Linked DNA regions of Homo sapiens. The protein of the gene in region 1 interacts with the protein of each later gene in a pairwise test. Each region holds a gene or a part of one and is shown in the gene's direction. Other genes may lie near its edges.

Region 1 (4,922 bases):
GGTGGGAAAATCACTTTATGGTGGAGAAACCTAATCAACACTGCCCCAGCCCGGTGACCAGGACTAATAGCAGCAGTGATAAGCCGGCTTGATGGTGTGTACTCTAGACAGGATGGGATGGGAATGGCGCTTTCCCGCTGCAATCTTCCTGACAAAAACATATAATTCCAGTCAGATCACAAGGAATACATCACACGAACTTCAGGAGAGGACATCCCACAATATATCTGATCAGTATTCAAAGTGTCAGGGTCATCAAAAACAAGGCAAGTGTGAGAAACCGTCGCAGCCAAGGGGAACCGTGACGAGTTGTAAGGTGGTACCCTGGATGGGGTCTTGGGACAGAAAAGGTATGTGAGGTGAAAGCATAGCAAAACCTCACTTCAACAGGAAATACAACCCAAAAAAATAATTGGCCGGGCATGGTGGCTTGCGCCTGGGGTCCCAGCGACTCGGGAGGTTGAGCGGGACGGACGGCTTGAGCTCAGGCCTTCCAAACAAGCCTGGGCACATAGCGAAACCTCGTCTCTCCAAAAAAATCCGAAAATTATCCCGATGTGGTGGCGCTCACCTGTAGTCCAGCTACTCCGGAGGCCGAGACAGGAGAATCACTTGAACTGATTCTCCTATCTCAGCCCCCCCCCCCCCCCCGCCCCACCCCAAGTAGCCGCAGCGAGCCGAGATGGCACCGCTGCACTCCAGCCTGGGCTACAGAGCGAGAACCCGTCTCTGTAAAAGACACAAGGATGCAAACCAACCAAATAACCCACTGTGGGATCCCCTCCAGCGTCCTGCTGTGTTTCCCGCTGTCTTCCTCCACCCGTGAGTGCACCCACAGCAATAAAAGCCAGCGGTGTGGGTCTCACACGCATCTCCAGCCCCGTCGCCATCGCGCTGAGCTCGACTCTTTTTACAAAAGGCCACTTGACATCCTCACTTGGCAGTTCAAAAGCCCCTTCAACCAGATGTGCGCAAGCCAAGCTCCGCAACTTCCCGTTCAGAGCAGGTTCTCGGTCCACCTCTGCCTGAATGAACCGGCGGGCTACCAAGGCCGCAGTCTCTTCCTCAAGGGCTGTCCACACTGGGTCTCGCTTTCTCTTGGAAATTTCTCTCCCACCAGGGAACTTTCTCCTCCTCTACCTCCCTGAGTCTCAGTCTAACAGCACCCTGCGCCCAACCCCGAGGGCTGCAATAGCCTTCTTGCCTCTCCTGACTTATTCTGCGGACCCTGGGTTGGCGCTCCTTCACAGCCAGGCTGGTCGTTTCTGAAATGTTAACCCGCTGCCGGACACCGTTCCACGGTTTTCCGCTGCCTTGGAACAAGACCAGCTCCTGCGCGGACCCTGCCTCCACCTCGCACCACCTCCGGGCCTGGACTTGGCCTCCCGTCCATTCCCAGAATGTGCCGGGCTCCCTTCCAGTCCGGGCCTCAGCACACTCTCTTCACTCCCCTTCCTCCCTCCCTGCCTCTCCCAACCCGGTTCAGGATGACTAATTTCAAACGTTATGTTCCAGATTTCAGCCCAGATATCCCCGCTTTGGATGCTTTCCTTGACCATGCTCAGATCTAAGCTAATCGCATCTTCCTGTCAGCCGCTTTCAGGGCACCACACCTCATTGTGCTGACACTCAGAGGTCATTATGCAATTTTTTTTCCTCGATGATTAGATTAATCAATCAACCACGGACGTCTAGAAATGGCGGCATCTCAGAAGGGCCCCCATTTGACTGGCAGGGGACTGGCCCAATGCGCCTCGCAAGCCCAGCCAGGCCCGCCCCAGCCGGCCCCCCTCTGACGACGCCTGTCCCTTACGCGACTGCCTTGCTGCCATATAAGAGGGACGGCGCTCGGCCTCCAGCAGTCGGCTTTCTGCTGGGCTCGGAGCCAGAACCTGCTGCGTGCTCCCTCCAGACTCCCTGGCTGCGGGTGGACTACCTCAGAGCTACAGCGGTGAACCTGTGGACACCTCCGACTCCTCGGGCCTCTCTTCGTCGAAGAGTCTCCTAATTTTCAGATCTCCGGAGCCAGCTGTGGGAAGATCAGGTGTGTGTCTGGGGGTCCCGGAGGCGTGGACGGATCTCGGGTGGGTGCAGTTGGGGACAGAATCCTCATTCCCCTAGAAAGGCCACGGCCATCCCCCTGCCTTGTCACCTCTGTCTTCCTAAATCCGTTCTTGCTCTCTTGTTTTTCTCCCCAGCCCCTCCCGCCGATTGCTCATGGAGGAACCAAGGCCTTCGAAGCGACTTCGCTCCATGGCCCCTAATCAAGGTACATCAAACGCCTGCCACTCCTCTCTTTTTAATTTCGTCTGTTCCCCAATTCTTCCCCAATGGTTGACACTCAAACTCAATCAAGCATTCTCTGTTTCACCTTCTCCTAGCCTGCCTCAACCTGGGCTGCTTGTTGGAAGTCAGCTCCCGGGTTCCACATCATCTGGGAAATTCCTTTCCCTCTTCCGAACCGTAATCCCATTTCCCAAATCTGAGATTTGCTGTTGTTGTCGCTGTTTCCTTCTGTTTAGTTTTGTATTACTGTTTCTCCGTAGCAGAGCGAGTCCTCACGCTACGTCTTGATCTATGATAAACCGGTACTTCCACCTTGTTCTTTCCCGGAGGAGTTGGAATTTTCCGGCTGTTGCCACGTTGTTCTCCAAAACATTTCCCTTCATACGCTGAGTGTCCTAAATCTTTTAATCTTGTCTAGTTTGACAGATGCATAACAATAAAGCATCCACTGAAAGGAAATTCTTTAACATCTTGCTTGTCTGAAACATCTTCATTCTCCCCTCCCAGATTCTTCAGCGAAACTTCGGTTGGACAGGAAATTTTAGGTGGGAAATTCATTTCCCTTGAAATTTCGAAGACATTTTCTGTTATGTTCTAGACTGAACTGCTGCTTTTGAGATGTCTGACTTTTGAGACATGTGGAATCCTAGCCCTTTCCATGTGACTTTTCCTTTCTCTGTCTCCCGCTCTCTAGAATCTGTTAGAATCTTCTCTTTTTCCTCAGCACTCTGAAATTTTCTGGTGAAATGTCTCAGCCACAGCATACCTCTAATTCTCTTATATTTCATCCTTCTTTCCATCATTTTAGGTTTTTGCTTTGTTCTGTGGGAGACCTTCTCAACTTCATTCTCCAACTTCCGTGGAGAGTTTTGTTTCTTCTCTCACAATTTTAACTTCAGAAATCCCTCTTTTCTCTGAGTATTTATTTGTAAAAGTATCCTATAACTGCTTGACGGGTGAAGTTCCTTCTGTCTCTCTCTGCTCACGCTCCGCTTCTCTTTTAGCCTCAGGTGGGCCTCCTCCAGAGCCAGGCTGCTGTGTTGCGGACCCTGAAGGCTCCGTGGAAGCAGATGGGCCCGCACAGCCAGCCCAACCCGCAAAACCCATCGCTTACGTGAAACCCTTCAGACGGCAGCCCCCAGCTCGCCCAGAGTCACCCCCTCCTGCAGAGAGAGGCCGGCGCCGGGGAGGAAGCCGGCGGCCAGGGCGAGGCCGTGGCAGAAGGGCTGGGCCCCGCGGGGACGCTGGCCAGAGACAGGGGGCAGAAGGCTTGATGGCACCGGACGTGCACATCCAACTGGACCACCATGGAGAGCCAGGCCACCAGGGGGAACCGGAAATCACGGAGACCGCAGCCTTCTCCCTTTCTGAAACAGGTCCTCCGCCTGGAACTGTGCAGGAAGGCCCTGGCCCCGACGTGGCGCAACCTGAGCTGGGGTTTCAGGAGCCGCCCGCTGCTCCTGGGCCTCAGGCTGTTGACTGGCAACCCGTCTTGACCCTCTATCCCTGCATCGGGTTTAGGGCTCTGGGTGACTCAGCGGTTTTACAAGTCATTCAAACCCCCCAGGGCACCTACGTGCAAGGGGTCCCAGTGTTCCTCACCGACATTGCGTATTGACCACTATCTGCCACCCACGTTGTTCCCAGCCTCCCTTCCTTCCACCTGGACGTTCCCCCCAGCCCCACTTCTGCTCCACTCCTCCCCCGACTGGACCTGAAGCCTGAGCTTCCCCTGAACTTGGAGTACGCAACTTACAACATGCAAGCTGCCAAACACCCTTTCTGTACAAGGCGATTGGAATGGAACTGTCATGTACAGTGAAAGTACACGTCACGTTTTTCAGCCAAGAAGAAGCCAACCCAGACAACCTGGAAGAAGTGGGATGCAACAAGGATCACTAAGCATGGAAATTAGGAAACTGTATTCTTAAGTCCAGAGAAGTACGATTCTGGAAAAAGGATTGATGACCTAGAATTAAAATTCCAGAAGACACTCATATAGACATGTGGGACATGCGAAAACTCAGAAGGAGCTAGAAGTTACTAAAGTGCTTCTCTAGTGCCTGGAGACGATAGACTGGCTGAATATAAGAGCAATAAAAATCTAGACTGACACATTTTTAAGTCTCAACGTGGGTACCCTTTGGGAACCACTAAATGAATTGGAATAGAAGGTAAAATTTCAAACAGATTGAGGAAAAAGGGGATCAAAGGACATGTGACGAATCAGACAAAAGGTGTTGGGGTGGGGGGGGGGGCGGTTAACGGAAGCAAGGAGAGTGCATGACTCACTGGAACCGCTAAACCAGGAATCAGTAATTTGACGGCAGTGTCCTTGGCTTCCTCCTGGCTTTAATGGGAATATTTTGAATGTTTCACCATTAACCAAGATGTTGGCTGTAGGTGTCTCTTAGATGTTTAAGTTGAGTTAGTTCCCATCTTTTCAGAGTTTGATAAATGTTGTATTATGAACTTTTGTATTTTGTATTTTATTAGGTAGGCTGTTGTTGGCTGGTTTTCACTCCTTTGTAAACGTCCAAATAAAATACAGATAACTTTTTACATCAAAGATTTTTCTCTTGTGTACTCAATCCTTCTAAATAAACCTTTCTCTTCAGACTTATTTTATAGAACAG
Region 2 (3,500 bases), on another chromosome or scaffold:
GTCATTTCAAAAGTTGAACTATTGTTCTCTCTTATTTTATATTTATGTCTTTTATTTTAGTTATTTTATTTTTTGAGACAGAGTCTCGCCCTGTCACCCAGGCTGGAGTGCAGTGGTGCAGTCTCCGCTCACTGCAACCTCTGCCTGCCAAGTTCAGGCAATTCTCCTGTCTGAGCCTCGAGTAGCTGAAATTACAGATGCGCACCACCATGCCCGGCTAATGTTTGTATTTTTAGTAGAGACGGGGTTTCACCATGTTGGCCAGACTGGTCTCGAACTCCTGACCTCAAGTGATCCGTCCACCTTGGCCTCCCAAAGTGCTGAGATTACAGGCATGAGCCACTGCACCCGGCCTATATTTATGTATTTTATAAATAAAACTTTTATAGTTCATTTATATATAGTTACATAAATATATTATGTAACTATATAATATATTGTAAATACATAACATATAATTACAGAGCTATAATTATACAAATATTAAACATTCATATATTTATATACAAATTGTAAATATATATATTTATATAAATTATTTCACAATATTTTTACATTGACTTTCTTCTCACTTTAAGTTATGGATTTAATCCACACATTGATGTAAATGACTGGGGCAGTTTCGGAAAGTCCCGCCTGACCTCCCATCCTTCCAGGCCTCCTGCCTCCCTTGTCATAAAGGTAAATCATCCAGGGAGTTTGTAGGCACTCAGTACATACATACATCTACCTAAGGAAATACAAAACAATCAACTTGAAAAAAGGTCTAAAAGCACATAAATTACTCAGTATTATTGAGGCAATGAAGAAATATGCTTACCTATACACTATTGATGAGAAATTTCTGGAGTGCTATTTGACAATAAACACAAAAATATTTTTAAAAAGAAATACCTCTTATCAGTTTTATATACTTTTTTACATAAATGATGCTATACTTGACATGTTTAGTTAACAGTATTCACAGAAATCTTTCCATCTCAGTGTATTTGAGGTTTCCAGATGCTCTCTTTCCCTGTTTCTGGACTCATGTGCAGAGCATGTGACTGTTCCATTGTGACAGGCATTCCCATCAGGGAAGCCTCATCCCAGCCACTCGTGCCACCGCGTCTCCCTTCCCTGGCCCTGAGACCTGTGGCTGGGTTTCTCTAGGAGAGATTCTGAAGAGGAAAAACTAAAGGGGCACAGGCATCCCCTTTTTAAAACTGATACTGCCAAATGGTCATTCGTAGGTTACTTTCCCGACAACGTCAAAGGACCCATTTCTCCTTATCTTCCATAAGATGACTTCCAAACTTGTTAACTTCTGCCACTCTGAAGGATGAAAAATGAATAAATGACCTGCTTTGTTCTCCATTTCCCTGGTTACTAGTGAGGCTGAGCATGTGGACACACATTGCTTGGCACTCATGTCTCCTCTTTGTCAATTGCCACTTCATATTCTTCGCTCATTTTTCCTTTACATTGTTTCTTAATGAATTTTGATAATTCTTTATGTCTTATTTCTTGATCATATAGAAATTAAAACTTTTACAAATTAATAATTTGTTTTTCATGTTATGTCTTGTTAAAGAATGTCATGATTTCCTTGAAAGATTCTGATGGTAGTTTGATTGGAATTACAATGAATTTTTAGGTCAGTTTGGTGAGAATTAATATCTAAATTGAATTTTCTTATCAAGGACTACTTTCCTTTGTGTTTTGAGGTGTTTTCTTTTTCTTAACATTTTATAATGAAAAATTTCAAACATACGGTTGAAAGAATTTTATAGTGGGCTCCTGTATACTCACCAGCTAGATGCTAGCATTTACATTTTACTGTGCTAACTTTATCACTTATCGTTCCATCCAGCCTCCATCTGTCCATCAATCCATCTGATTTTTCATTCATTTCACTGAGTTGCAGATACTTGTACATTTACCCTGAAATACTTCAGCATATATATCATTAATGAGAGTTCAGTATCTGTTTATGATTCTTGCTCCTCCTTCTTCAGTTAAAATTTGCATACCAGTGAAATGCACACATCTTAAGTATAGCACTATAAGGTCTGACAAATGCATAAATCTCTGCAATCGAAACACCCTATCCAGATACAGAATCTCTGTCACGCTTGCAGGCTCTGTCGTGCAACTTCCTAGTCAACTCCCTTCTACCCCAGGCACCCACTATTCTGATTTTTTAAGTAATGGACTAGTTTTTCCTGTTATTAAACATCACAGAAATGAAATCCTTCAGGATGTAGCCACTTAAGCCTGGCGTCCTTTTAGCATAGTGCTTTTGAGATTCATCTGTGTTGTACATGTATCAGTAGGTTACAGCTGTTTATTGCTGAATAGCATTTTATGGTATGAACATACGCGTTGATTTATCCATTCTCCTGTTGAAGGACACCTAAGCAGATTCCAGGCTTGACTACTATGAATAAAGTTCCTTGTATAGGAATACTCTATACTTTTTGTGGACATGCATTTTCATTTCTGTTAGTGTTAACTAGGCGTAGAATTGCTGCATTATAGGGCATGTGTGTGCTTAATTTTATAAGACATTCCTGGGCCTTCTCCTGAACTCTTTTTACCTCCACCCACAGTGTGGGAGACTTGTGATGACTCCACATATTTCCCAACATTGGTGTGGTCAGCCTTTTTAAGTGTAGCTATTCCGGTGTATGCAGTGATTCAAGTGATTTTTTATATCATTCCAGCCTCTTGAAAAAGCAATTTTTACTAGTCATTTTTAAATTTTCAAATAAATGTATTTAAAGCTGTAAAGTTTCCTCTGAATACCATCTCCCTGCTTCCACCACGCATTTAGGCTTCTGTTGTTTGATACTGTTTTCTGATTTTTGTTGCATTATTATTAGTGAATATGGGCTGTTTATGTTTTATTCTTGATAATTTATTGAGATTTTTCTTTGTAACCAGTTAGATACGGTCCATTTTTGTGAATCTTGCCTGTTGTTTCAAAAATACGTGTGCTTTGATGTATCTGCACATTTCTTGACTCATCTGTGAGATTGAGTATTAAGTATGTTATTAAAAATATCTATATATTTTTTATCCACATGAGTACCAGATACCTGAAGATTTGTGAAAGTCACCCACACTCAATCTGGATTTGCTAGTTTCTATTAGTTCTCTATTTTTAATATTTTGTGTGTATTTTAAGGTTATATAGGTTTTTGTGGGGTTTTTTGGTTTCTTTTTACAGTCCCTTTTAGTGCTTTTTGCCTTGAATTCAGTTTTGCCTAACAATAATAGAGTTCCACATGCTTTTTAAATTTGCATTTGCCAGGAACCGTTTTTATGATTCCTGTCCCACTCTTTAGTCTTTCACCTTTTTGTGTTCTGTTTTATGTAGGTCTCTTGTAAATGATGCATAACTAGACTTTTTTTGGGAGGTTGATGTGGAGACCTTTCCAGTCTGAAAGTCCATGTTAATACATAGTTAAATTCATTTTAACTAATATACAGTATTCCATTCTGTGAGTCAGTTTCCA

The links. Proteins that work in one complex are often made in the same cells at the same time.
Region 2: the proteins of PRR20B (region 1) and ROR2 interact in a two-hybrid assay, tested with the Homo sapiens proteins (one large-scale study listed by BioGRID).

The regions. Positions count from the first base shown.
Region 1 is NC_000013.11:57,145,658-57,150,579, forward strand, and holds PRR20B (proline-rich protein 20B), read left to right. Parts: upstream 1-1,830; 5' UTR 1,831-2,044; intron 2,045-2,198; 5' UTR 2,199-2,217; coding exon 2,218-2,269; intron 2,270-3,290; coding exon 3,291-3,904; 3' UTR 3,905-4,852; downstream 4,853-4,922.
Region 2 is NC_000009.12:91,751,229-91,754,728, reverse strand, and holds part of ROR2 (tyrosine-protein kinase transmembrane receptor ROR2 isoform 1 precursor), read left to right. Parts: intron 1-3,500. UniProt on the Homo sapiens protein: Tyrosine-protein kinase receptor which may be involved in the early formation of the chondrocytes. It seems to be required for cartilage and growth plate development. Phosphorylates YWHAB, leading to induction of osteogenesis and bone formation.